4 separate regions of the Homo sapiens genome follow, and all the other regions are reported to be linked to region 2. The links are microRNA targets in miRTarBase. Many come from high-throughput screens and were not tested one by one. Region 2 holds a microRNA gene; each other region holds the end of a gene's coding sequence.

The links. Region 2 holds the annotated microRNA hsa-miR-7160-5p (UGCUGAGGUCCGGGCUGUGCC, at 3,286-3,306, opposite strand). A microRNA usually pairs through its seed, bases 2 to 8, with sites in the 3' UTR of a target mRNA and lowers its output. Matches are read on the target gene's strand: a 7mer-m8 pairs with bases 2 to 8, a 7mer-A1 pairs with bases 2 to 7 and ends in A, and an 8mer does both.
Region 1: the mRNA of SLC25A45 is a reported target of hsa-miR-7160-5p. Seed matches in the 3' UTR shown: 7mer-m8 at 1,871-1,877.
Region 3: miRTarBase lists TMPRSS4 as a target of hsa-miR-7160-5p. Seed matches in the 3' UTR shown: 8mer at 6,155-6,162 and 7mer-m8 at 2,714-2,720.
Region 4: the mRNA of FAM118A is a reported target of hsa-miR-7160-5p. Seed matches in the 3' UTR shown: 7mer-m8 at 5,793-5,799.

What each region holds. Positions count from the first base shown.
Region 1 is chr11:65,370,718-65,377,836 of GRCh38, reverse strand. SLC25A45 (solute carrier family 25 member 45) reads left to right here. Exons shown (of 7, transcript NM_182556.4): 6 at 761-1,019; 7 at 1,162-2,645. The coding sequence ends at 1,430. It also overlaps a transcript of FRMD8 not described here. Among named protein-coding and RNA genes, the nearest start is that of SLC25A45, 8.4 kb to the left of the region's middle. RefSeq lists an enhancer at 712-1,212.
Region 2 is chr8:2,072,776-2,079,894 of GRCh38, reverse strand. MIR7160 (microRNA 7160) reads right to left here and starts at 3,306; the gene lies at 3,255-3,306. MYOM2 (myomesin 2) reads right to left here. Exons shown (of 37, transcript NM_003970.4): 10 at 6,395-6,556; 11 at 3,613-3,754; 12 at 962-1,161; 13 at 282-335.
Region 3 is chr11:118,117,073-118,124,191 of GRCh38, reverse strand. It overlaps TMPRSS4 (transmembrane serine protease 4), which reads right to left. Exons shown (of 13, transcript NM_019894.4): 12 at 6,738-6,887; 13 at 2,302-6,290. The coding sequence ends at 6,279. Among named protein-coding and RNA genes, the nearest start is that of SCN4B, 32 kb to the left of the region's middle.
Region 4 is chr22:45,339,596-45,346,714 of GRCh38, reverse strand. It overlaps FAM118A (family with sequence similarity 118 member A), which reads right to left. Exons shown (of 9, transcript NM_017911.4): 9 at 4,760-6,329. The coding sequence ends at 6,310. It overlaps SMC1B (structural maintenance of chromosomes 1B), which reads left to right. Exons shown (of 25, transcript NM_148674.5): 24 at 1,146-1,256; 25 at 2,058-2,652. The coding sequence ends at 2,159. Among named protein-coding and RNA genes, the nearest start is that of FAM118A, 33 kb to the right of the region's middle.

The DNA of each region.
Region 1 (7,119 bases), not on the chromosome of region 2:
CCTGGACTCCAAAAGCTATCTTGACCTACTGGCATCTCTGACCCAAATCTTAATTGCCCCCATCGCCCTCTACATCCCCCCAGCACTGACCCTCACCAGGACTCCAGCCCCAATTCCATCCCAAATCTGTGTAGCATCTGCTTCTGCCGATTCTAAGAGCCCTAGCACCTGCCAAGTCCCCCCATTACCCACCTTCCCACACTCAGAAGCCTCTTTGGTGGGATGCTAATGGGAAGGAGTCTTGCCTCTCTGGAGGCAGGAGGGGCTGGCCTTGTGCCCCTCCGGGCCTCTGAGAGGTGGGCGCAGGAGAACAGCACTCACGAGGGGACCTCCTTCACCCTGGGAAAGGGTGGTTTCTTTGCTATTTCACAGTCACAGGCTGAATCCTTCACTTGGCCCTGCCCACCGTACAGGTATGCTCACTGCCGGCTTTAGGGAGGCCAGAAACCAACCTGCTCCTGCAAAAAGAATCCAGGCTTGTTCTGAGTGCCTGCTGTAGGCCAGGCAAGTTGGTCACTGTTGCATGAGGGGCAGTGCCTCTCACTCTTGGGCCTGATGCCAAGGGAGGTGGCCTGTCCCGGTCGCATGCAGACATCCTGGCCATCCCAGCCACACATGCACGTGAGAGGCTGGGTGCCGGCAGGGTTCCTGAGGGACTGGAAGATGTGGCCCCCTGCCTGCCTCCTTCCTCTTGTGAATATAAGGGGCCAGTTCCCAGCCCAAAGCCCCACCCGGGGCCCTCATGTTTCATCACCAACAGGCCTACTGTCTGGCTCCTTTTGACCTCATCAAAGTCCGGCTACAAAACCAGACAGAGCCAAGGGCCCAGCCAGGGAGCCCCCCACCCCGGTACCAGGGGCCCGTGCACTGTGCAGCCTCCATCTTCCGGGAGGAGGGGCCCCGGGGGCTGTTCCGAGGAGCCTGGGCCCTGACGCTGAGGGACACCCCCACGGTGGGGATCTACTTCATCACCTATGAAGGGCTCTGTCGCCAGTACACACCAGAAGGCCAGAATCCCAGTAAGTAAAGTGGCGTGAGAGGATGGGGGACAGAGGTGTGGGTAGCAGGCAGGGTCCAGCGGGGACTGGGGAAGGAAACTAGGGTCTGGGGAGGATGCTCTGTTCTGGGTCTGACCCCTGCTCTGGGCTCTCTCTGCCCCAGGCTCAGCCACGGTGCTGGTGGCAGGGGGCTTTGCAGGCATTGCTTCCTGGGTGGCAGCCACGCCCTTAGACATGATCAAGTCCCGGATGCAGATGGATGGACTGAGACGCAGAGTGTACCAGGGGATGCTGGACTGCATGGTGAGCAGCATCCGGCAGGAAGGACTGGGAGTCTTCTTCCGGGGGGTCACCATCAACAGTGCCCGCGCCTTTCCCGTCAATGCTGTCACCTTCCTCAGCTACGAATATCTCCTCCGCTGGTGGGGATGAGCCCTGCGGCAATGCCAGCAGCTCCCCATCAGGCCCACGGCCTGGAGGCCAGTTTGAGATTGGAGGCCAGGTTGAAAGCTTGCAAATCAGTGCAAGAGGCTCAGCCCTTCCTAACCAAGGTGCCTCCCACCCGCGCAGATCTGGGCTGGGCAGACACCTGTGGGAGCCGGAAGCCAGGGGGCCTGTGCAGCCTCCCTGTGTAGCTGGCCTTGACTCCTTTGCCTCCCACATCTGTGAAACAGGGAGCATGAGGCACAAGTGAGCTGGCAAGTGGTGCTGGTGACATCCCAGCTCCTGTCCTGTGCCTTCACCTCTTTTTTTTTTTTTTTTTTTTTTTGAGATGGAGTCTTTCTCTGTCACCCAGGCTGGAATGCAGTGGCGTGATCTCGGCTCACTGCAACCTCCGCCTTTCCACCTTCCGGGTTCAAGCAACTCTCCTGCCTCAGCCTCCCAAGTAGCTGGGACTATAGGCGCCCGCCACCACACCCAGCTAAATTTTTGTATTTTTAGTAGAGACAGGGTTTCACCATGTCAGCCAGGATGGTCTTGATCTCCTGACTTTGTGATCCGCCCGCGTCGGCCTCTCAAAGTGCTGGGATTACAGGCGTGAGCCACCGCGCCCGGCTGCCTTCACCTCTTAAGGAGCTCTGAGACTCCACTTCTGAGAGTCCCTGCGGCCTCCCACCTCCCTGCCTTTCAAAGCTCTCTCCCCCATGACCCAGGATAACCCTATGTCTCCTCCCCCAGAATCCTTCAGTGGCTCTCATCACCTTCAGGAAAAGCCCAAACTCCTTCCACCCTCCAGGTTCCTCCCTCCCCACGAGGCTTTGTTCTCCTGGGGTTGCTTCCTGGACCCTGAACAAGTTGTGCTCTCATTGGCCGGGCCTGGCCAGCAGTGCACAGTGCCTGGCAGGTTGACTCTACCATCCCCGGGGCTGGCCCCGCTCTCCTCCGAGACCCAGGCTGAGCCCAGTCCCCTCACCCTTCCTTGACTTACCTCCCCACCTGAGGCTGACTTTGGGGTTCCCAGACACCCTACCCACACACATGCCTTGATCATAGCACTTGCCTGCGCTTCTTCAGAGTCATTAATTTGCTTCTCGGCTTCCCCACTGGACTGTGAGCTGCCTGAGGTCAGGGATTGCGCTTTGGATGGTTTCCAGCCTGAGCCTGGTGCTTGAACAGACGTGTGCAATAAATGCTCGTTAAATGATGCGACTGCACTCCTGACCTGTCTCTTCACGCCAGCTGCCACACCTGCTTCCCTGGTCTTGCCACACAGCTTTCTGTTGAACCTCCCAGCCCCCATTTTCCTGCTCTGACCCTTCTCGAGGTCACCTGCAGTGGAGGATGCTGGGAGCTGGGGGTCTGTCTGCTTTGCCCACTCCCAGCCAATGGTGCTTGTTTTCTTTTTCTTTTTCTCTATTTTTTCTTTTATTAGATACAGAGTCTCACTCTGTTGCCCAGGCTGGAGTGCAGTGGTGCCATTATAGCTCACTGTGGCCTTGAACTCCTGGACTCAAGTGATCTTCCCACCCTAGTCTTCTGAGTAGCTGGGACTACAGGTGTGTGCCACCGCACCTGGCTAATTTTTAATTTTTTTGTAGAGAGGAGGTCTCACTATGTTGCCCAGGCCGTCTTGAACTCCTGAGCACAGATAGCCCTCCCACCTTGGCCTCCCAAAGAGCTGGAGTTACAGGTGTGAGCCACTGTTGTTTTCTTTACCCATCTCACTTGCTCAGTGGGAATTAAAAACTGGCTGAGAGGGTTCTTTTAACTGACAACAAAATTGAGCATCAAGGGCCATTTGTACCCACTAATGTCCCTATCTGGTCTGAGATCAACGTGAGTCCACCTCATGGTGACCTGAATTCCTGCCATTTACTGGGGGCTCCCTGTAGAAACAATCACAGTGTTATGATCACAGTTGATAGAGAGGCAGCCTCGGCTCAGAGACATTATGTAACTTGTCCTAGGTCACACCGCGGGTAAATCATACAATTTGCTTAGATGCCTCTGAGCTTCCAGCCGCAGTGTCCAGTTACTTAGCTACCCTGCTCCACCTGGGCACATGGCTACCCTGCTCCACCTGGGCACATGGGGGTCTTCTGCGAGTCACCTAAGTTCAACTCCCCCCACACCACCCTGGGCTAGACCTGCCGGGACCATACTACGTCACGTGCTCATCAGAGCTCTCCTTCACCAGATCATGTGCTGCAGATGGCTGGAGGCCATCTGCAACTAGTTTTTGTATTTTTAGTAGAGATAGGGTTTCACCATGTTGGCCAGGCTGGCCTCGAACTCCTGGTCTTATGTGATCCACCCGCCTTGGCCTCCCAAAGCGTTGGGATTACAGGCGTGAGGCACCTGGCTCTGTCCTTGTTGCAACAGTTTAGGCCCTTGTTGCAACAGTTTAGCAAGCTTCATCCTGACTCAGTGGGTAAGGTACTGTGAGTTTCTAAGTCAGTGGTAATCCAAGTGTGGTCCATGGAGCAAAGCTTATTAGAAATGCAGCATCTGGCCAGACACAGTGGTTCACACCTGTAATTACAGCACTTTAGGAGGCCGAGGCAGGAGGACCACTTGAGGCTAGGAGTTCAAGACCAGCCTGGGCAACATAGTGAGACCTTGTATCTACCAAAAATTTAAACATTAGCCAGGTGTGGTGGCACTGTGCCTGTAGACAGAGCTGCTTGGGAGACTGAGGTGGGAGGACTGTTTGAACCTGGGAGGTTGAGGCTGCAGTGAGTTTTGATTGCGCCACTGTACTCCAGCGTGGGTGATGGAGCAAGACTCTGTCTCAAATAATAATAATGATAATAATTTTTAAAAAGATATGCAGCATCTCAGGCCCCACCCCAGACCTACCAAATCAGAATCTCTGAGGATGGGGCGCAGGAATCTGTGTTGTGAAAAGCTCTCCCAGGGATTTCTACACATGCTAAAGTTTAAGAATCGGTGTTCTGGGGGCTCCTGATCGTGGGAATGTGCTGCCCTTTCGGGCTGAGAAAGGTGTATGGTGGAAGAGACTCGAACTCCTAGTTTCTAGCAGTCTCTGCTCCTCCTATGGAAAACACAAGGTCCACCTGAGGCCGGTTCCCAGGTGCCTTGAGGCAGGCACTGCCCTTCCTGTGCCTCAGTTTCCTCTGTGATCCCTTTTTTTTTCTTTTGAGATGGTGTGTTGCTCTGTCACCCAGGCTGGGGTGCGGTGGCACGATCTCGGCTCACTGCAACTTCTGCTTCCTGGGTTCAAGTGATCCTCCTGCCTGGGACTACAGGTGCATGCCACCATGCCCGGCTAATTTTTTTGTACTTTTAGTAGAGACGGGGTTTTGCCATGTTGGCCAGCCTGGTCTGGAACTCCTGACCTCAAGTGATCCGCCCGCCTCAGCCTCCCAAAGTGCTGAGATTAACAGGCGTGAGCCACCACCCCCAGCTTTCCTCTGTGATCCCTTCTGATCGGACCATCTCTGAGCCCATCCAGCACCACCGCAGCGCCAGGGATTCCAGGCTGGACATTGCAGCGATGGTACAGCAGGTGTCAGAACACCACTGGGCAGCCCGTGGCTGGAAGGAAGCAAACAGGACGCATGAGGAGGAGGAGGTGGGCTCCTATAAACAGTGCAGGAAGTAGGCAGGAGGACAGGTCAGAGTGGTCCTCTGTTGTTTGCTATTTCTCATCAAATTACCAGTTAGCGGGAATTCCCATTTGGGTGCCCCTCTGTCTGAGAGAGAGCTGTTCTCCTTTTCCCTTTGCCTATTAAACCTCTGCTCCTAAACTCAAAACAACAACAACAAAACAGCAAGGGAGTAAAATGAAAAAAATCTATTTTTTTTGGCTTTAGTTAAATGGGCTCCCATTCTCCCTCTCTGGTTCTATCTAGAGGAGTCTCCTAAAGAGCCTGGAGTGCCCGTCCTCTAAACTCCACCTTTACAGCCAGAGAGAGTGGCCAGACTCAGGTGGGACCAGGGAGTTCCAGGCCCAAGTTCCTTCCACCAATCCATGGCAAAGGCTACCCACTGGGCTGGGAGAGCAGTCCTGGAGTGAGTTTAGGGTTTAGTATGGTGTGATTAGTGAGCAAATAACTCACTCCTGCACAGTGGCCCCAGGAGGAGATGCCACTATTGGAGGGGAGGGCAGAAAGACAAAGATGGGGCAGGAAGGGGCCAGAGAGATTCTAAAAATCTAGATGTTGGCTAGGCATGGTGGCTCTCATCTGTAATCCTAGCACTTTGGGATGCCAAGGTGGGCAGATCACCTGAAGTCAGGAGTTCGAGACCAGCCTGGCCAATATGGTGAAACCCCATCTCTACTAAAAACACAAAAATTAGCCAGGCGTGGTGGCACATGCCTGTAATCCCAACTACTAAGGAGGCTGAGGCAGGAGAATCTCTTGAACCCAGGTGGTGGAGGTTGAAGTGAGCTGAGATTGCCCCACTGCACTCCAGACTAGGTGACAGAGAGAGACTCTATCTCAAAAAACACAAAATTTAGCCGGGCTTCGTGGCTCATGCCTGTAATCTCAGCACTTTGGGAGGCCAAGGTGGGCAGATCACGAGGTCAGGAGATCGAGACCATCCTGGCTAACACAGTGAAACGCCGTCTCTACTAAAAATACAAAAAATTAGCCGGGCATGGTGGCACGCACCTGTAGTCACAGTTACTTGGGAGGCTGAGGCAGGAGAATCACCCGAACCAGAGAGGCGGAGGTTGCAGTGAGCCAAAATCGCGCCATTGCACTCCAGGCTGGATGACAGAGCGAGACTTCGTCTCAAAAAAAAGAAAACAAAACTAGATGTTTTTAATCAGCAGGGTCTCATAAGGCATGCGAAATTGCTTAAGGATTTAACAGATGGTATCTCAGGTTGCTGTTATTTTTGAGAACTCTTTTCGACAGAAGAAATCCCTAAGAACCAGGAGATAGTCTGTGAACCTGCTTTGAGGTTACAAAGGAGGTGGTGTCTGTCAGTCACTTGCAAAGAGCTGATAACTTGAGCAAACATGTTAAATAAAGTCCCATTGGACTCCTGTTGTCCAGCGTCATACTTCTTTTTTTAGCAATGACCACAGCTGAAGAAATTCCAGGAGACTAACTTATGTGTATAGTGACACTCCCTGTGGCTTTCCCCACCACACTCCAGCCTGGGGAAAGCTACATGCGCAGGGAAAGGGGGAAATGACACAACCACGAGATGACTCTGGCTTAAATAACTTTGACCAGACTCAGGAAACAGCTGAGCCAAGGGGGTCCATGCTGTGAATGTGACTTAACTGGTGTCTCCAGCCTGCTCAGGCTCCTGAGTGCCAGGCCCACACTGCTGTCTCTGGTCACACATCCTTAGATGTCCCAAAGGCACCTCAAGTTCCCCAGCCCGCCCTGCTGCCCTCAGCTCCCAGCCCAGGCCGATGCCTCAGAGGAGCTCTCCCTCTTCACCCCCGCCATGCCAAAAGAGTCTCTAACTCCTCTTAACCCTTTGAAAGATTTCTACTCCTTCCCAATTTTTTAGAGATGGGGGTCTCACTATGCTGCCCAGGCTGGTCTCGAATTCCTGGGCTCAAGTGATCCTCCTGTCTCAGCCTCCCAAAGTGCTGGGGTTACAGGCATGAGCTACTGCATCTGGCCTCGACTCCCTCTTTACCAATCCTAACAGCACAGCCCTGGTCCTGTCTCAGATCTGAACATGTACT
Region 2 (7,119 bases):
ACAAGTCCCTGAAAGAACGCCTTTGTAAACCCCAAATGAAAGGTGAGTCTAAGAGTCACCAATCCTTCACCCTTTCTCCCACCCTCTCACTCTGTCTTGCTTGATTTTTTCTTTTTTTTAACTTCTATGGACACTGGGCTTGCAGGCCTGACCTGCGGTTTTCATTTTTCCATGCAGAGGCCGTGCCCAGTAGGGGGCGTTCTCTGTCCATCTCTCCCATCTCTAATTACAACTCCAAATCCCCAGGGGCTGAGCAGCTGGGGTGATGAGGTGCTACTTACCTTCAAGGTCATCCTGATAAATGGCAATCTCCTTCTCTCCCTCCAAATGAACGGCTGCGGAGAGAAAGGTTGACACTCGATTTGACATGCGAAGTTTTCCCCAAAAGCCCGTTTTCCCTCATTCTGTGCCAGCTCTGCATCTCCTCTGCATTAGGACTACAACCTGTGAGTCCTCTGGGGGCATCAGAGCTGATTCTGGAAGTGTCCTGGTAACAGTTAGCACTTCTCAGCTCTTGGTGGTGGATGCAAAGGACCATGTGCGTAAGGAAAATATAGTGGCTCGCTTACAACCATAACGAAGGGCCCAGTCCCATTAAGGAATCTGTGTCATGCAAAATTAAAACTCAGAATAGGATGGCCTTCTAAGTGTCATTATGTGTTGAAATTATATCACCAATGGAATAAAAAAAAGGTCTAATTCTGAGCCAATTTAACTGGATGCCAGCAAAGAGCTTTCTGGAGGAGAGGCACATTCATTTTAGAGTGTACGTCAGCCCGTTTTCATTCCTGTAGTGATGTTGGTGGAGATGTCAGAGAACGTTGTAACAGCCTGTGCTATGCTCTGCACACAGGGCATTCTCAGGGCTCACATCGAGTTGGGAGGGAAAGAGACAACAAATCACACACAAAACAGCCAAAGCTTCCTGGGCACAGTGGATACTTAGGCGTGAGCAGCTTACCTTGTAACCTTCTGAGGTCCAAGGGGTCAAGTGCAGCCACCGCATCAGAGACCCTGGAGGGTCGGCTGATGCCCGCACTGTTCACTGCCCTCACTCGGAATATGTAAGACCTTCCTTCAAAAAGCCCTGTGACCGGGTATTTGCAGATTTTCACCGGTGCATCATTGCACTGCACCCAATTATTCGTTCCTACTTCACATCTTCAAGTTAAAAAAAGAAAAACAACAGAGAATAGCAAATGTGGCAACCTACTAAATATACATAGGTATATGCATATATGCACACACTGATTATAACAGGACAATATCTCACGCCAGTAAAATCTTTGCTGCTAAGATATTGACTTGTATAGATAAACATTAGAAGACAGAGCTATTTAGAAAATGCAATATATATATTATATGTAATATCTATTATATATGTAATATATGCCCATGAATCTTAATAATTTATAGCTGAAGATCAATTTCTGTCATCAAACACATTTAGGCAAAAATCTCCTCAAAAAATTATTTTAGACGCATCCTGAACAGTTCTTGTTCCGACTTACGTGACATAGTCACGGCACCCCTAAGCTGCGGCTTGGCCCGTCTGAGGCCCAGGCTGGGGAAACAGGCTCAGCCCCCTCTGCCTCCAGCTCCCGTCCCACTCTGTGAGACCAAGGGCCCAGGTCCCTGGGAAAGCTGGCTTACAGTCTCCTAGAATAATGTTAGGACATTTCTTTCTAGAATGCCTCTCATGTGGAATTTAGAAGTCTTTTGAAAATATTAATTCCTGACCAGAAACCTGGAAATATAGGAAAGATTAACCTCTGTTTTTCACAGGTTGAAAAATGTAAGAAAAAAACCTTCACATGAAATTCCCAGGAGAAAAGAGCTAGTTCAGAAAATCAGTGTTGGGAGGGAGCACTTCAACCCCAGAGTGGTGCCTTCATCTGGGAAAGAACCAGCTCTCCTCCTAAGTATCCAGCACTTTTAATGAAAGCTGTCTGATCCACATGTCATGGGCTGTTTTAGCCGAAGAGAACAACAGGTCAAAACCAAAAGTCTGATGGGAAAACCTGCAACTTCAGGCAACAGCTGGCAAGTCGTAAGCCCAAAGGAAGGGCAGAGGAGGAGCTGCACCCCCCACTTCCAAATGCACCCTCATTCCCAAAGTGTTCCGTTGCTTTGAATTTCATGTTTGCGCTTTTTGTAATGAGGGGAGGAGCGTGGATTGTTAGCTGAGACAGTGCAGGAAATGGTTTTTGTCAACATGGCGGGAAAACTTATCAGCTGTCCCAGGAGAAAAGAAGATCGTTTTGAGGGTTTGTTTTTCTTGCTGTAGTTGCTTAATTCAAGGTAAGCCCGGAACAGCACTCCCTGCAGAACTGTCTCTAGCATATCAAAATATTAGTTTGATGGCACAGGTCTCAGCCAAACAAGTAGTTTTGTTGGAAGAGAAAAGAGAATTTAATCAGCATAAACAAACAAACAAACAAAAGCCAATTCCCTCATTTTTTCCTAAGATAATCACCTTATTTTTCTGTTTAATATACATATAAAATTTTGCATTTCTACCAGGAACCATCCTTTGTGGTTTTTTTGTTTTGTTTTTTTGTTTTTTGTTTTGTTTTGTTTTTTTTGATGGTGGAGTCTCACTGTGTTGCCAGGCTGGAGTCCAGTGGCGCAATCTTGGCTCACTGCAACCACCGCCTCCCTGGTTCAAGAGATGCTCCTGCCTCAGCCTCCCAAGAAGCTGGGATTATAAGCACATGCCAGCACACCCAGCTAATTTTTGTATTTTTAGTAGAGACAGGGTTTCACCATGCTGGCCAGCATGCTCTTGATCTCCTGAACTTGTAATCCGCCCGCGTTGGCCTCCCAAAGTGCTGGGATTACAGGCGTGAGCCACCGTGCCCAGCCAGAACCATCCTCTTTTACTCTCTGTCTAATTTCTAAATTCATTTTCTTCAACTATAATTTACTCCAAGAACTGGAATTTGTATTTAGGGCATAAATTACATATCCAGTAAACCCACTGGCTCTGTGCAGTACACTTCCCAGGCTCCAAGCGCTGTCCCCAGTACGGGAAGTCAAAGAATTCAAACTCCACTGGCTCCAACGATGACCTAAATGTAAGTTATCAACTCAAACACAAACTCCAGTATTTCGAAGCTCAAGATTTTTCACTTGGAAACAAGAAGAACACCTTATTCCTCAGTAGAGAAAAGGAAAGAACTTTGTTAGAAATGAGCTGGCATTCTTCGCAGCACTTTGTCTCTCAGGAGGGAAGGACAGTTCCAAGCTTTAATTCTGCTAAAGCCAGGGCCCTGTCCGGTACGGGGCACAGCCCGGACCTCAGCAGAACCACAGCGCGGGGCTCAGAGTGAGCCTGAAGACGTTGGTGGGATTGGTTACTGGGTGTGCAACAGGCAAACGAGCCTCCACTTTCAACAAAAAGAAACCCAGTGTGGTTATGCTGGGCTCAGCCTACTTGGCCGTATTTACCAATTACCTAAATAGGAACTTATACAACCAATTAGCCATGTACCTAGAGCCAATCAAAAAATGGGAACGTCAACCTGCATTGAGAAAAATTTCTCAATATATTGTCCATGGTAAGATTCCATGCGGAACGTTCCCATCCCCGGGAGAATGCAAGACGCTCACCGGTCCACAAAATAGCCCATGACGGGGCTCTCAGTGGTGGTGTTGGGCGGCTTCCAGGTCACGATGACGTAGTCCCGGTTGGCGTCGTGGCACTGCAAGTCCATGGGTGCACCGGGGGCCCCTGTGACCAGCGGGTCAGCATCTTGGGGCAGGGAGAGAAAAGGCACACGCCTGTCATTTAAAGGCTGGGGTCACTGCAAAGCCTGTTTACAGCTCCTCCAAGCTCCAATTCTATCCCCTTGATTTGACCACTGTTTAATTCTCATGTTCAAAGTACTAGAATATTTCTTACTCTGGCGGGTTGGTGACAAGAAATATAAAATTATGTATGAATTAAAAAGCTTCAAAACATAGAATCCTTGATAAAACACTGAGTCTACAATTTTTCGTCATTAGATCCTGAATTACAGGTCATCTTCTCTTGGTCCTGCTATGGTGCATAACGGCACGTTGGCAAAAATGTGCGGATGAAACAGTGACAATAATCTGGCATTTCTAACACCTGAGAAATATCACCTGAGATACTCTTCTATTTCAAAATCCTTAGGAAATTGGGCGATTTACTCTTTTCGCCAACTTTGAGCAAATATTTGGGACAATATTGCATCATTCGTTTCTCAGTCTATTGATGACCCTAATGCAATTAGGTTTAATTACAGCTGCATGAAAACCAACAGAGCAACATAGAAAGTTAATACACTGAATGTGAACCTTCTTATCTAAACTATGTATTTATTCAGCAGCCCTGGCTGCCCTGTGACGCATGCTTAGCAGGGTGAGCACTATCCAGTTTCCTGCTCACATATCTTCAGGGTATTAAAAGCTGAGGATTTCCTGACATTGAGCCAAATGGTTTCCTCTCACATTCAAAAGCCTCAGAAAGCGATGAAAATGGTTAAACTCCCCACCTTTGCCTTATTTTCCTCCTGTTGCTGGTGCTGAGTGAGCAAGGCGATTTGAGCCGTGTTGCATTTATTGCCTTTTTATGGGGCGGAGCATCATACCAGCAGGCACATGCAGAAGACGGAAGGGACATTTAACGCCCGCCTAACAACAGCAGTGAAACTTGGCGGGAGTGTCTAACCTCACAGACTCGCAAGCTCAGGCTATCGTGTGGGAAGTGAGGAGGGTGAGATACGTTTGGTTGACATTTCTTCTCTTTCTTTTCAGATGAAATATTCTTTAATGATACAGTCCTTCCTTTAAGCTCTGATCTAATGGATGCAATGGAAAAAGTAATCATGAAGATGTATGGATGCGTCCTGCACCCCACTGGAGCTGGAGGCAGGTGGGAAGGTGAGAACTTGGGCAGCAGGTAAGGATGCCCGGCTGATCGGGATGGAGCCGGGAGCCCGGGGACCCGGAGAGCAGCAGCAGCTACATGGCGCAGGAGCGCTCTGACGCCTTCTTTGTAGGTCAGCTGTGCCTCAGCAAGGAGGCTGCCCCTAAACCCAGAGGCTGCTGAGGTGCAGCCCAGGGCAGAAGCAGGAGGGGAGTGAAACAGACACTGATAAAAGCGTAGGTGGGGCCGGGCGCGGTGGCTCACACCTGTAATCCCAACACTTGGGAGGCCGAGTTGGGGGGCCAATCACTTATGATCAAGAGTTCGAGACCAGCCTGGCCAACATGGTGAAATCCCATCTCTACTAAAAATATAAAAATTAGCCGGGCGTGGTGGTACATGCCTGTAGTCCCAGCTACCGGGGAGGCTGAGGCAGGAGAATCGCTTGAACCCAGGAGGCGGAGGTTGCAGTGAGCCGAGGTCGCGCCACTGCACTCCAGCCTGGGCGACAGAGTGTTAATCCATCTCAAAAACAAAACTAAAAAAAAAGGAGGAGTGGGAGTAGGTGGGCCCCTTCTGCTCAGTCACATGATGCCAAAAACACTACAAAGTTATAACAGGAACTCAGGTTCCAGGCTCCAGCAAAATTTAAATCTGAGCTTCTCTACCCTAGAGACATTTCTCCTGCCTCTGAGCCTCCATGGATTCATCTGGAAAACTGAGAACAGTATTTCCTTTTGCTATCACTGTAAGAATTCCAGCTTATATATACATGGATGTTTATGTAAGTATAGGCACATACATGCACACCTATAGGCTGTATACAATAGGCATTTTATAAATATATATATCTGTATATCACAAATATTGTCTTTCTTTTCATAAATGGAATGAGTGAAGCTTCCCTAGTGAGTCTGCTGTGAAGACGAAATCCGTGTAGGACCCCAGCACACTGCCTGACATAAAGCGTCTGGTGATGACAGCTGTCATGGCCACAAGTGTCTTAAGCACGAGTTTCACTGAAGTGGGTGGTGGAGGTCACAGCACTGGCTGTCATCATCATCACATCTGCCTCTCTTAAGCCAAAGTCCAGAGGGAATGAGTCGCTGGCAGGAGAGTAAGGAAGCTCTTCCCTGGGACTCCAACACTGTGCCCCTCTTCATCCTCGGGCTACGTTCCCTGAGAATGAGTAAATCTGGGGCACTCACTCTTGGGAATCGTTTTTCAAATGCTAATGACTATATGAACGATTCAAGAGACAAAAAAATGATGATTCTGGTCTATTCCGGATTGTGTCCCGATTCTTCCGTCTGCTCATCGGCAGGAAGCACCTGGCGTGCCCATGCACTGAGGGAAAATCGGGGCCGCATGGGGTCTCCAAGGAGCAAAGTGGTCTCACACCCTCTGGACTCCTTTTCCCAGCGCCTCCCTCCTCCCAGGGCTGCCTCCCCTCCCCGGGCACACACAAGGTCTGCACCCTGAGAACCCTGCTGCCCGCACCTCTGACAAACAGGAAGGCGCTGTGGTCGCTGACGCCGCCCCGAGACACGATGCGCAGGGTGTACAGGCCCTCGTCGTCCTTGTGCAGGTGGCTGAAGGACAGGGAGGCCTGGCCTTCTCCAAAGAACATCTTCGTCCACTTGGACTCTTTCAACAGCACGTCTGAAAGAGCGTTAACACGGAAGGTTTGCATCCAAAATCACCCCAGCAGGCAAAGAAAGCCTCGGGGACACCAGCGTCGTCTCAGAGCGGGACAGGACAGTCGAGCTGGACACCACGGAAGGCAGAGCCTCAGCCTGGTAAAATCCCAACAGCTGCACTTCGTGGAAGCACACGCGTGAACTGAGCACCCACAGCCCAGAACACAGGCTGCCACTTGAGTGGGTCAAAGTGGGACGTGCTGCGAGCGGCCGCCAGCTTTGTCCTCAGGTAAACTGGGTTCACCTGGGGGCCCGCTGCTTCTCTGCTGGACGGCCACTGCCCCAACCGGCTTCCCCCCGCCCGTGGGGGATTACAGGGGTGTGCAGCTGAAGGGGCTACTGTCACATCTCCAAAGAACCCAGCATAGACCCTCCATATCATCAAACTCTAAAAACAAAATGACTGGATGGAAGGAAGAAAAGAATCTCAATACGACTAAGGTAGCATTTCTGTCTAGAAATAGTACACAAGCTGCTAACCAGCCCCTTCCATGCAGTAATGTGCATTAAACTGAATCTAAATGG
Region 3 (7,119 bases), not on the chromosome of region 2:
GATGGTCTTGATTTCTTGACCTGGTGATCTGCCCCACTCGGCCTCCCAAAGTGCTGGGATTACAGGCATGAGCCACCATGCCTGGCCCCTCCTGAAGTATTTTTAATTACAACTTTGCATCATTTTACCCCAAATACTTCTGTATGCATCTCTAAAAGTTAAGAATATCTTTCTTACTTAACTATATCATTGTCACACATAATGAAATTAACAATTCCTTATTATCATCTAATACTGAGATCATATTCACATTTCCCAATTACCCCTTTGCCCAAATGCCTTTTGTTGCTAACTTGTTCAACTCAGGATCTGGTCAAAGCCCATGCCTTACATTTGATTGTTATGCCTCTTAAGACATAACAGTAATTGGCCGGGCACGGTGGCTCACCCCTGTAATCCCAGCACTTTGGGAGGCTGAGGCGGGCGGATCACGAGGTCAGGAGATCAAGACCATCCTGGCTAACAAGGTGAAACCCCGTCTCTACTAAAAACACACAAAAAATTAGCCAGGCGTAGTGGCGGGCGCCTGTAGTCCCAGCTACTTGGGAGGCTAAGGCAAGAGAATGGCATGAACCCAGGAGACGGAGCTCGCAGTGAGCCGAGATGGTGCCACTGCACTGCACTCCAGCCTGGGTGACAGTGCAAGACTCCGTCTCAAAAAAAAAGACATAACAGTAATTACATGACATTGATTTGTTGAAGAGATGGGAATGTCCTGTGGTGGAATGTCCCACCTTCTGGATTTGTCTTTTAGTGGTGTCATTTAATTTGTTCCTCTAATTCTTATGTTTTGTTCCTCTAATTCTTGTATTTCCTGTACACTGGAAATTAGATCTAAAAGATTTATGTTAAACATTTTTGGGAAGATGCCTTTAGATGATGCAACATGAAGGTGTACTTCATATTCACGTTGGGAGGAACATAGTATCTGCTGATTCCACTGTTAGTGGGTAAGGTGATGATAGCCTGATCCCTTCATTTTGAAGTTAGGTTTCTTATTGAGATTAGCAAGGGATCCGTGGGATGATATGAGGGTATTATGTGACTGTGCAGTTCTCTGTGGTCTTAGTCCATTCATGCTGCTCTAAATACCTTAGACTGGGTAATTTATAAACAACAGAAATTTATTGCTCACAGTTCTGGAGACTGGGAGGTCCAAGATCAAGGTTGCCAGCAGATTCGGTGTCTGGTGAGGGCTCATTCTCTGCTTCCATAGATAGTATCTTGTTGCTATGTCCTCACATGGCAGAAGGGGCAAAGAGGCTCCTTCAAGCCTCTTTTGTAAGGGGCACTAATCCCATTCATGAACAGGGAGCTCTCCTGACCTAATCAGCCCCCAAAGTCCCACCTCTTACTACCATCACCTTGGGGGTTAGGATTTAACATACAAATTTTGGGGGACACAAGCATTCAGACAATAGCATCCATTGATGATCCTTGCCTGAATCAATGATTTCATTAGAAATTGCCAATGATGGCTTCCTGTCATTCATCTATATTGATTAGCTATACTTTCCCTCACCACCTGGAGCCACCCTGTTACCTGGAAGTAGATTTCTATGGCAAAGCAGAATAGTGCTAACTTTTCCTCTTTAAATATTATTTCAGAGTAAGAGCCTGGTGTGATTGCCAACTCCAGTGGTGACAAAGGATGATTTTTTTAATTTTCTATTTTCTTCTCTTTGTTTGCAAGTTTTCACTTATTATAGCTTACTGGTGAATTGAAACTTTCGTGATTATGTAGTGACCCTCTTTATCCTAAAGTCAGTTTTGTCTTTTTGTCCTAAATCCTTATTTAGAAAAATATTATATAGCTACCCCAGCTTAAATTTGATTAAATGCTTGCTGTCTGTACCTTTCTCCACTTTTTCAGTTTTAATGGTTCTGTAACCTGGTGTTTTGTGTATGTCTGTTACAAATAACATATAGCTTGATCTTACATTTTTATCCAATTTGCCTATCTCTGTATATTATTTGGTGAGTTTAATATTTATTGCGATTATTAGTACTTTTTTCACTATCCTACTTTGTATATTCTATTTGTTCCATTTTTCTGTGCTTTTCCCTCCTTAGTGCTCTTCCTTTCCCTCCTTTCTCTTTTGTACTTGCTTGATGTATTTGTTTTTTATTCATCAATTGCTACTTTCAATTGTTTTGGAAGTGACACACTTTTATTTCCATTCTTTTGGTGATTACTCTTTTAACTAACCATCTAGAACATAGTACAAACATTTTATGTAACATAACATTAATATTTAACCCTCCTTTTGGACAATTTAAGAACTTCAGAATATTTTAACTCCAGCTATCCCCTTTAATTTACATGCTGCATGCTGTGGTTACTCCATATTTCAGTTAGGCCTTTAAAAATTAACCCACAATGGAAACTTCTTGGTCAAATTTTAACTAGCTAGTATTATATTTATATACAGGGTCTTTTTTCTTTACTGATGTATTTTTCTACTCATAGCCAACCAATAAATTCAATATCTGTTTCAAAAAAAATTAACCCACAAAATAAATATTATTGTTATTTTAATAATATGTAGACACGCCTGTAATCCCAGCACTTTGGGAGGCCGAGGCGGGGGGATCACTTGAGGTCGGGAGTTTGAGACCGGCCTGGCCAACACAGTGAAACCCCATCTCTACTAAAAATTCAAAAATTAGCCGGATATGGTGGCATGTGCATGTAATCCCAGCTACTCGGGAGGCTGAGGCAGAAGAATCACTTGAACCTGGGAGGTGGAGATAGCAGTGAGCCAAGATCCTGCCACTGCACTCCAGTCTGGGTGACAGGGCAAGACTCAGTCTCAAAATAAGAAGAAGAAGAAGAAGAAGAAGAAGAAGAAGTAGACAGAGTGTGTTTAGACTTACCTACATTTTCACAATTGCCTCACTATTGCTACTTGCTTCTTGGTTCTTCCTTTTAGGATCATTTTCCTTCTTCCTAAAGTAAATGCTTTATATATTCTTTTAGAGAAGGTTTGTTGATGGTAAAGTCTGTTTTTGTTTTCTTGAAAATGCCTTTATTCTTGAAAGATAGTTTTGTAGGGTTCACAATCCCTGATTGATTGTTATCTTTTGGCATGCTGGAGATATACTTCCACTGACTTCTAGCTCCTTTATTGCTGTGGGAAAGCCTGTTGTCAGTCTAATTGTGGTAGATTTGTGGTACTGTGGGTGGTCTGGGTTTTCTCTCTGCTGCTATAAGGAGTTTCTTTTTGTCTTTGGTGTTCTGCAGTTTCATTATAATGTACATAGGTGTGGATTTATTCTAATTTTTCCACCTTGGTTGTATGCGTGTACACTATGGTGGTGTATGTTCTGTGGATTCACACCTTTTATCAATTCTGGAACATTCTCAGCTCTTATCTCTTTGGTACTGTCTCTCTCTCATTGTCTTGATTCTCTCTTTCTGGGATTCTGGATATGTTAGAATTTACCATTCTAGGCTTCATTGCTCCTGGCCTTGTTTTCATATTTTTAATCTCCTTATCTCTCTCTGCTGTTAAGCCTAGTCACTTCTTCAATTTATCTTCCAGTTCATTTGTTCTCTCTTAATTGGTGTTTTAATTGTTATTTACCCCATCCACTTAGTTTTTTATTTTTATAATTATAGTTTTTATTTCTAAAAGCTGTATTCAGTTCTTTTTCAAATCTGCCTGTTATTTTTGCTTGATTATTAAGATATCCATTTTTAACAGAAAATAGCAAGTGTTAGGGGGGATATGGAGAAATAGTAACTCCTGCAAACTGTTGATGGGAATGTAAAATGGTGCAGTCTCTATGGAAAGCAATATATCAGTTCCTCAAAAAATTCAAAATAGAATTACCATATGATCCAGCAATTCCACTTCTGGGAATATACCCAAGAGAATTGAAAGCAGGGCCTCAAAGAGATACTTGTACACCCATGTTCACAGCAGCATAATTCACAATAGCCAAAAGATAGAAGTAACCTGAATGTTCGTATAAACAATAGAATATTATTTAGTCTAAAAAGGGAAGAAATTCTGACACATGCTACAACATGGGTGAAACTTGAAGACACAATGTGAAGTGAAATAAAACAAGTACAAAAAGACCAATACTGCATGACTTCACTTAAATGAGGTACCCAGAGTAATCCAGTTCACAGAGACTGAAAGCACAATGGTGGTTGCCAGAGATTGGGAGGAGGGGGAAATGGAGAGTTGTTTGATGGGTACTGAGTTTCTGTTCTGGAGATGGATGGTGGTGATGACTGCACAATAGTGTGAATGTACATAACACCACTGAACTATACACCTAAAAATGGTGAAGATGGCAACTTGTGTTATGTGCATTTGACCACAGTTAAACATGATTTTAAAATGTGGAACTAGTATTCATTTTTTATTCAAATATTTTATAAATTATCATATTGGAGGCCCTATAGTGTGGTAGTTTACAGCATGAACTCTGTATTCCAAGTGCTCACGTTCAACTTACAGTCTATAATCTCAGGCAAGGAGCTTAACCACTTTGTGCCTTAGTTTTTTTAATCCATAGAGTGAGGATAAGAATAATACCCATCTCACAGATTTCTGTGAGTATTAAATGAATCAGTACATGATGAAGCACTTACAATAGTGTCTGGCACATACAAATACTCTGCAAATATTGCTTATTATCATAAGTCTCTAATATTCTGACATCTGAAGCCTTTGGGGTTCTAAATTAGCTGTTTTTTATGCTGCCCACTTAAGGTGTTTTTTATTTTTCAACGTCTCTGATCTTTGATTGTGAGCTCATATTTGGAGGATCTTTGGGAATCCTGAGGCTCTAAATTTGGGAAATTTTCCTCCAGACCATCTGCAATTTGAGACCACATTTACTGCCATCAGTTATCCCTGCTTCATGTAGGAGCCCTGGTTCAGCTCCCTTGTCTTCAGTGTGTCCAGGTTTAGCTCCACTGCCAGCCTTCATATAGGTCTCGACCCAAGATTTTAGTGTATTGCTCCCAGATCATCACCTTAGTTTCCACTCACAGTTCTGATGGTTTTGTTTTATTTTGTTTTGTTTTCTGGGTTTCTATTTTCTTTGTTTTTGGCATTTGAGGAATTCTGTTGTTTCCTAAGAACCTAGTACAGTATGAACAAGTATATTTCATCTAGGATCTGACTTAACTATAGCAAGACAGTCCTCAGAAAACCCAAGCTTTCATACAGATGCCAAAAAAGTCCATGGGGTTTAATTCTTTGACCATTTTGAGTGCAGGGACTTATTCATGCTTACATCCTCACAACTCAGCTTGGGGACTGCCTCACACCTGGCAGCTGATCCTTTTTGTTTTTTAAATGTAAGAAGCCACACTGAGGGCTCTCCAGGCGGAAAAAGTTAGGACACAGGACCAGCATTTCTTTCCAGCCACTTGTGGATCCCTGATTGAATGTCACCCTTGACTGCCTAACTCATCTCTTTCCCAAGTCATAGGTTATCCCTGGCTCCTGGCTGATTATCACAGGCAGGGAGGGAGGGAAAGAGGCAAAGGGAGAAGGCCCTGTGTGGGACTCAAACTTGCTCACCCTGGTTTCTGTAATCTGCAGCTCACTCTTGCTGCCACTCAGCAGATCTGGTCTCCCTAACTCTTTTTTCCCCTGCCTCTACTTTGAGACTCAATTGCTTCCCCAGGACTTCTTTTCTCCCCAAGCCAAAGAATGAAAGTTCAATCATCCCAGCTCAGTTCTTATCAAGCATTCCAGCTAGCCTATGCCAGAGATGTTACACAGCTCTTTAATAATAGTGGCCATAGCTGTAATAACAATGACAACAGTAGGTAACGGTAGTCATACCAACAGTAGGGCAGTGCATTTTATATTACAACTGGTTTCTTGCTCTAGTAGGCTTGGGGATGGGTGAAGACGGACAGGGCTGGCGCAGACCCTTTCCTTCTCCTCTCCAGCCCACAGTGATCTGGGCTTTTACAAGACAGCCTGCTTCCATTCAGTAGTGTGGGAAAGTTCCTTCTTGGCTTAGCAATACCCCTGAGACCTTGTTCAGTGGGCTGTGTCTCTCCCTGGGATGCTGGGAGCACCAAGTGTGGCCGAGCTAGGGCTGCTGACTTCCTCTGGGCGCCTCTGGGCTGCGAGGGTCTCTTATAGGAATTGAGGCCCTTTGCTGCTCCAAGAAATGCTGAGGCTGTGGGCAGAGGGGTGTACCCAAGGGGACTCTTGCTCTGTGTCTGACTTTGGGGGATCCCCAGGTGGGCAGGGCAGGAAGGAAGCGGCTCCCAGCACTGCAAAGGGGCAGCAGCATTACAGCTCAGCCTAGAATAAGAGAGACCGATGAAGAGAAAGTCAGATTATCTGAAACTGGACAAAGTGGTGACATGTGTAACGTGAGTCTTCCTTTTCTGAAACACTTTGCTTCTCTCCCTACCCTGCAGAGGGCCAGGAGGTCTCATGAGCCTTTCCACTCTCTTCCTTATCAGAATCTTCTCTCTAGAAAGGATCTGATAGTCTCATTCTGTCAGAAAAGAGAAAGAAAGGCTTGGTGTGTTCTATTCCCTAAGGTATTTGCATTTATCAGAAATCTCTGACCTAAGGAATTTCAGCCTTAATAGTGCAATCTCAGGCTGTCCCTTGCTTGGAGGGAAAGTTATTTGGGATGTAAAGAGTTGTCAGAACCATTTAAATCAAACCTGAGGATGGATTGGCACCCCCCAGGTAGAGGACTGGAGGGAAGGCACAGTGGGTAGGGCAAAGGTACCTTACCTTCCAGACATTGTAGATCCAGTTGAGATAGGCTGAGACCTTGGTGTATACTCCTGGGGTGCTCGGGCCCCCGCAGCCATAGCCCCAACTAACGATGCCCACCACATGCCACTGGTCAGATTGGTACATCAGGGGCCCACCACTGTCACCCTGTGAGAGACCAGAACAGAGACTGCTGGGGAGGGCAGGTGAGGTGGGGGGGCTTCTCCTTCTCTGCTCCCTGAACTGGCCTATCTGTTCCCCTGCACTCCCTGCTGCTCTCCGATATTCCACCCTCACCCTCTTTGCTCATTAGCACCCTAGAATGGTCTTCTCTTCTGGGGCAGAAAGGCTTGTCTGTGGACAAGTAAGTTGCAAGCATGCCGTTAGCCTTCTCTCAGAG
Region 4 (7,119 bases), not on the chromosome of region 2:
AGACCTTTTTTCAGCCCTGTCATAGTGGCTACTACCATTGCCTCTAATGCTGGAAGTTCCTTCTATGAATTCAGCCTCTTAGAGCAGTTTCTTTCCTTTCTCACGTAAAACATGGCCACTCATTCCTCAATGGAAGCTACCATTCCTACTTCCAGAGCTTGTGTCCACAGGATCTTTGGTGCACATGGAGAAGACCCATTCTAGGCCCTCAGAGAAATCCAGGAGTTGGTATTACCTTTGTTAGACTGTTGGTAGTTTTTCTCTTCTTGGGGTTTATCACCGTCCAAGTTCTGAGTGGTTTGTTCACCAAGACTCATCTCTATTGAGTCCATTTTGCACTTCTCATTTCCTTGGAATTGAGCTTCCTTAGGGAACCAGAGTTCACCTCTAACCAAATGACTTGATTATGGATTACGAATACATATATAATTGCCCTGTTTTTCCTTTCAGGCTGAGTTGGCAAAATAGGAAGGTGGAAATTATTTTGGATTTTTGCTCTTCTTGTTGTTAGATGGAGTCTTTCACTCTGTCGCCCAGCCTGGAGTGCAGTGGCACAATCTCGGCTCACTGCAACCTCTACCTCCCGGGTTCAAGCGATTTTCCTGCCTCAGCCTCCCGAGTAGCTGGGATTATAGGCACCTGCCACCATGCCTGCCTAATTTTTTTGTAATTTTAGTAGAGACGGGGTTCACCATGTTGGCCAGGCTGGTTTTGAACTCCTGACCTCTGGTGATCCGCCTGCCTCAGCCTCCCAAAGTGCTGGGGTTACAGGTGTGAGCCACTGCGCCCAGCCTGGAGGTTATACGTTTAAATACCAGCCCTTTTTCACCCTCAAAAAATACTCTGAGTGGTAGTTTTTTTCTTGTTATAAAGGCTGGTTACCTATTCACATCACAGTATCTTAAGTTGGAGCTTTATTCTTTAAAATATTCTTAAAGTTTTAGATCATAGGTTTAATGAAGTTTATCTCATTTTAGAATCTATTTCCATTTCTGCAGTTGTTGAGGATTTATTGAATTATTGGAAAGGTGGATAAGTCCTTGTCACCTAAACTGACCAGACTCAGAGACATGCAGAATTACTGTCTCCAGAGCCCAGACAAGGCCTTTCCTTCCTAGTGAAATGTGTGTTTTTATTTCTTCCAGGTGTCAAGTTACATCAAAGAGCAAACTCAAGACCAGTTTCAGATGATAGTCATCTCCCTAAAAGAAGAGTTCTATTCCAGAGCCGACGCGCTGATCGGCATCTATCCTGAGGTAAAGACAAATCAGAGGCGAGAGGAGTGTACCCAATGCCAACTTCCCTTAGTACCCTGACAGCCACTGGGCTTTCCTAATTAAAACTTCCAAATGGAGTCTAATGCTGAAATGACTTTTTAATCAAATAAGATTAAAAATAACTACTGGTGCTTTCCTAGACAATACATAGAGATTGAAGATATATTTTAAGTGAAAAAAGCAAATGGAAAATTGCAGAACAGTAAGTAGGATAGTTTTGTTTCGTGAAATAAGTCCATGTTAATTTACACGAACTGTTAACATTATACTTCTTATTTCTGCAGTGTTTCAGTGTTTTAAGCAAAAACAAATGCACTGTGGTAGAGCAAGGAACCATTTATCCTCCAAAAGTATCAGAGGACAAAACAAAGAAATACATTAGAAGTTCCAAGTTGTATAGTAACTTCTAAAATGTGAACACACCTTTCTCAAGCCATTGAAAATACTAACCTGAACTCATGAAGTAGAGCCACTAGTTCAGGTCATTTGGTTTTGGACAGTTAGGATTTACTTCCTGAATTTTCCTTTAAGCAAAGATAAAAATTTACCTTCCTGTGCCTACAGAATGTTAGGGGACCACCTGGAAATATAATGCATGAGTAATGGAAATTCTCATACCAGATAATACCAAAAAAACCCACAACCAATATAAATGCAGATATCTTACTAGGTTGAAGAAGATTCCTTTTGAATGCAATTCTAGACTCACTAATGGCTCTTACTTTAATAATACTTTTTCCCTAATTAGGGGAACTTTTAACTGTCTTCTCTCCATTTTAGTACGATGACTGCATGTTCAGCCGAGTTTTGACCCTAGATCTTTCTCAGTATCCAGACACTGAAGGCCAAGAAAGCAGCAAGAGACACGGAGAGTCCCGCTAGGGGCAGTCCTGCAGCAGTCACCTGATCACTGTTCAGTTCCCACTCTAATACTCACACAGCTCCTCCACAGGAGACTTCTGGAGCAAGCAGGACCAGCCTGGTGCACCCTTTAAGAGAAACCTTAGTCGTTCTAGCCAAAGAGGCTGTGGCTCACTTTAGTTGAGTGTTCAGACCTCATTCTAGTAGGGAAAGTTTTCAGTGAGAGCTGGTGTCAAATGAGTTTTTAAAAAACAAACAAAAGGTACAATTTTGTACTATAATTCTAACTTCTATTTTGAAATAAGCTAGTTTGGTTGGAAAAATTTTGAATTCAGCTTCATCTTCACTCTGATCTTGCCTTGCACCCAAGTAATCTTGAAGGGAACTTCTCTTGGTTTTTAAACATACTAGTTATAAGATTGTTAATAAACTGTTGAACCTGGCTTTTGGGAAATTGTTTCAGAGAAACTATGTTAGTATTGAAAATATCAATAAAAAATGTTCTAATTTCAAATGTCTCCAATGTAGAATTTTAGAAGCCAAAAATATTTTAATGGTGAAATTGAATTATGTCTGTTTCAATGCAATCTGAATTTTTATAAATAGAATCTCTGTTACGGAAATATTGAAGAATACAGAGTTTCTCAAGTGACAACTGACTTCTCCACTTACAAACGTTATTATGTGCAGAAAGCTGCACTTTCACCACTTCATTTCCACTTCAAAATGGAACAAGACAGGCCTGGAGCGGCAGCTCACACGCTGGTAATCCCAGCACTTCGGGAGGCTGAGGCGGGTGGATCACTTGAGCTCAGGAGTTCGAGACCAGCCTGGCCAATGTGGTGAAACCCTGTCTCTACTAAAAATATAAAAATTAGCCAGGTGTGATGGGGTGCACCTGTAATCCCAACTACTCAGGAGGCTGAGGCAGGAGAATCGCTTGAACCCAGGAGGTGGAGGTTGCAGTGAGCTGAAATTGCGCCACTGTGCTCCAGCCTGGGTGACAAAGACTGTCTCAACAAAAAAAAAAAAAAAAAAAAAAAAAGGGACAAGAAAATTCTGAGGTGGGCTTCCACTTCAGACTGCTTTGGGCCCAAGTGCTAACCAAGGAGTAGCCTCCTGAGTAAATGTATCCATTTTAACAACACTGTTTCATGTAATAACAGAATGCACTCTGTGAGGAAGAAATTAAATCTCAAAAAGATTTGGTTCCTTCCTGGAAGGGACTTCCGGTACGGTGAGATAGCTGACCTCTATGAACTGCAGACAGCAGAAGCCACTCTATTTGTCCTCCTTTTTCTTTTTTTGACACGTAGTCTCGTTCTGTTGCCCAGGCTGCAGTGCGGTGGCGCGATCTCTGCTCACTGCAACCTCCACCTCCTGGGTTCAAGCGATTCTCCTGCCTCAGCCTCCCAGGTATCTGGGACTATAGGCATCTGCCACCGTGCCCCGCTGATTTTTGTATTTTTAGTAGAGACAGGGTTTCACTACATTGGCCAGGCTGGTCTCGAACTCCTGGCCTTAAGTGATCCACCCGTCTCAGCCTCTCAAAGTGCTGGGATTACAGGCGTGAGCCACCGCGCTTGGCTGTTCTCTTTCATAACTTTGACTTATAGACTGTCAGTGATCCCACCAAGTTCAGTCATTTCTGATATAACAGAGCATGCCCAGTAACCTAATTTAAGGGCCACAGCACATATTCAGGCTTTGTTGAGATAGTAAGGAGGTTCTTAGCAGGTACTTGTATAACTATTTAAAATGTAACCATTTTATTTTTATTTTTTTTTAGATGGAATTCCCTCTGTCGCCCAGGCTGGAGTGCAGTGGTGCAATCTTGGTTCACTGCAACCTCTGCCTCCTTGGTTCAAGTGATTCTCCTGCCTCAGTCTCCCAAGTAGCTGGGATTACAGGCACACGCCACCACGCCAGGCTAATTTTTGTATTTTTAGTAGAGACAGGGTTTCACCATGTTGGCCAGGCTGGTCTCAAACTCCTGGCCTCAAGTGATCCGCCCCCCTCAGCCTCCCAAAGTGCTGGGATTACAGGTTTGAGCTACCTGCCCTGTCTTAAAATATAACCATTTTAAAATGTAATAGCTACTCTAGCTTGAGGCAGTAAACAGCAGGGCCAACTTTGTTACCTCCTGATGTGATGTTTCTCACGGACTAAACTATACACAAGCAAGTGCACTATGCTGGAATTGCCTTTAATCTATCAATCGGATTGGAATAAACTTTACATTCTACAACGAGCATACAACAGAACTGACTAGATACATCCATGTGGTGCAGCAACATGGCTGTGTCCTCCAGCAGAGCACACAAAGCTTTTCTTAAAAATGGGCTGTAATGAGCTTTACATCCTACTGCATAGCATCCTCTATGCTTGTAATTCTGCTATACCCTGTGTCTGGCCAGCTCTTAGATTCAGATATTCCCTGACTGCACTTACTAAATGACATTAAAGAAAAATTTATAATGTTTGCTTTTTAAAACATTTAAATACATTCAAGTAATCATTTAGTTGATTTCACAGTTGGGTGGCAACTCAAGCTAAAAATTCTCACTAAATAACATTCTAGCAAGCCTTGGCATAACTAAAGAAACACTGAGCACACAGGGTTGAAGTTAAAATTTTATTTATGGCTGGAGTGGCATAAAAGATTTGTTTTCCATGCTTCAAAAAGAAAAAAAAAGTTTTCAGGGCTTCTCTCCCTCCCTATGCATCCTACCCTTCTGTTTCCTGTTCTTAACTTTATCTGTACCTATGGGAGTCATCAATGGGGAGTGTCACAGGGCTTGGCAAGAAATGTCACATTGAAGATAAGTGGCCTCAAACTGAAACCAAGCAGGGCTGTTTGTTTCCAAAGAGAACCCTCCACTGTAGGGCCGCTCATGCACCGCCACAGAAGCCTCTGCCGGGTCACAGTCAGAGAAGCTCCCCGGGCACCGGCAGCACACTCAGCACAGCCGTTTCATGTGGGTGAACCTGAGAAGGTTTAAAGTGTTGCAGGCCCTTTTCAAGTTTTGCCTCCCTCACTCTCTGCAAACTCCCTTAATGTGGGCCATGGAAGAGAATTTTAAGAGACAATAACAGAAAGACTGGATATTACCCCAGAGAATAAAGACTTGCAAAGCCTGGAACTTATAATGTTTGAAACCTGGTCTCTCGAACTTGAGCTATCCCGGTTGTCAGTCCCACAGTGGCCGTGCACAATGTTGGCCTGGACTGAAAAGGGCCTCTGGCTCCTCCGATTTCAGTTCTTAGCAATATCAGACCTGTGTTTCTTTGGAACAGAAGTTACTAAAACAACCTAATTCCAAAGAAGCCCTTTTGATCCAGCTGTTCTCCCTAAAAACATTTTCGCTAGCGGATTCATTCTTTACTATTTAACAGTGGACCTTTAAAACGTACCTTTAAAATGCTTTCTATAGTAACATGTTTCCACATACAAATTATAAAATGTGTTTATTTTGCTGGGCGCAGTGGCTCATGCCTGTAATCCTAGCACTTTGGGAGGCCAAGGCGGGTGGATCACCTGAGGTCAAGAGTTCGAGACCATCCTGGCCAACATGGTGAAACTCCAACTCTACTAAAAATAAAAAAATTAGCTGGGCATGGTGGTGGACGCCTGTAATCCCAGCTACTCGGGAGGCTGAGGCAGGAGAATCACTTGAGCCCAGGCGGTGGTGGCTGCAGTGAGCTTGAGATCGTACCACTGCACTCTGTCCTGGGTGACAGAGTGAGACTCTGACTCAAAAAAAAAAAGTGTCTATTTCGTATTTTCTCTTTGGCAGCTACTGTTGCTTGGACAGTCTTTACTCTTCCCCTTTTATTACGAAAAATACCACCTTGACAAAAGAGAGCCTGTCAGATGGGAACGGGAACACCAGGTCCATCCCTTCCCACGGATTCTGGTCCCTGAGGTAGCTATCCATCAGTCCTTGCAAAGTCCACCTGAAATGTGTCCGCGTCACCCTCCTGCATAGTTCAACACACAGGGGAGCCCTCTCACCCAGCCTTGAGGGCCACATGCCCATGTGGCTCTCTTGGTGTATGTGACGGTTTCGCAATCAGAGATCCACGTGGAGTTCTCCATACATTCCTCTTCGTTTGGGCACTGTGGTTACAGAAGGCTAGTTTTCAAGTTGCAGGTTTTACTGTAAAGATTTCAAGACCCTCCAGCATCATCTGTTTAAATAAAAGAATGAAATGCCCAAGGGTTAAAGTCCAGCTAAAAGAAGTTATTTGCAATAGATTTCTATTTCAGAAACTGCTTTACAATTGTTCTTATGTACGGAAGACTTTGAAAACCCCTCCACAATGGAAACAGTAGCCACTGTCTGGAAATGACCTTGTGTAATTATCAGTACTATCAGGGGATCAAGCAAATGATGACATTACATTTGCAACGATCTGTGGGAATCTCAATCCATGAACATGGATGCTCTTTTATTTCTTAGTGGACTGAGGATGGGGCAATTTCAACAAACATACAGTGAGAGCCTGTTGGAGGTATGGAGAAGAATAAGCCTGTCGATTCCTCTGGGATCCCCAGGCTTGGCTTCTCTCACCCACATGCAGGACAGGCCAGGGCTTTCTGTACAACAGAGGCCAGGAGCTTCGCCCTAAGGAGACATGACTGGGTGGGGAGAGCCGGGGCTGCAGGTGCAGGTGATGGCGTCTAGGAGCACAGATCTCACAGGTATTGAAGAAAACCCCTGCCCAATGCTCCACAGCAAGGTCTACCAGGCAGTAGGCCCTACCCGCGATGTGCACACCAGTCAGAGGTAGGCCACGGGGGGACAAAATCTATGTACACACAACAGCAGCAACAGCAGAAGAAAGCCAATCTATTGAGAATAATCGCCCGGGCCTTCGTTCTTGTCAGCAGGCACTGGAGGAGCCCAGATATGCAGAAAACAAAACAATGAACGTGAAAGAAAGTAGTGGAAAAGAACCACCTACCCCGGAGGAAACA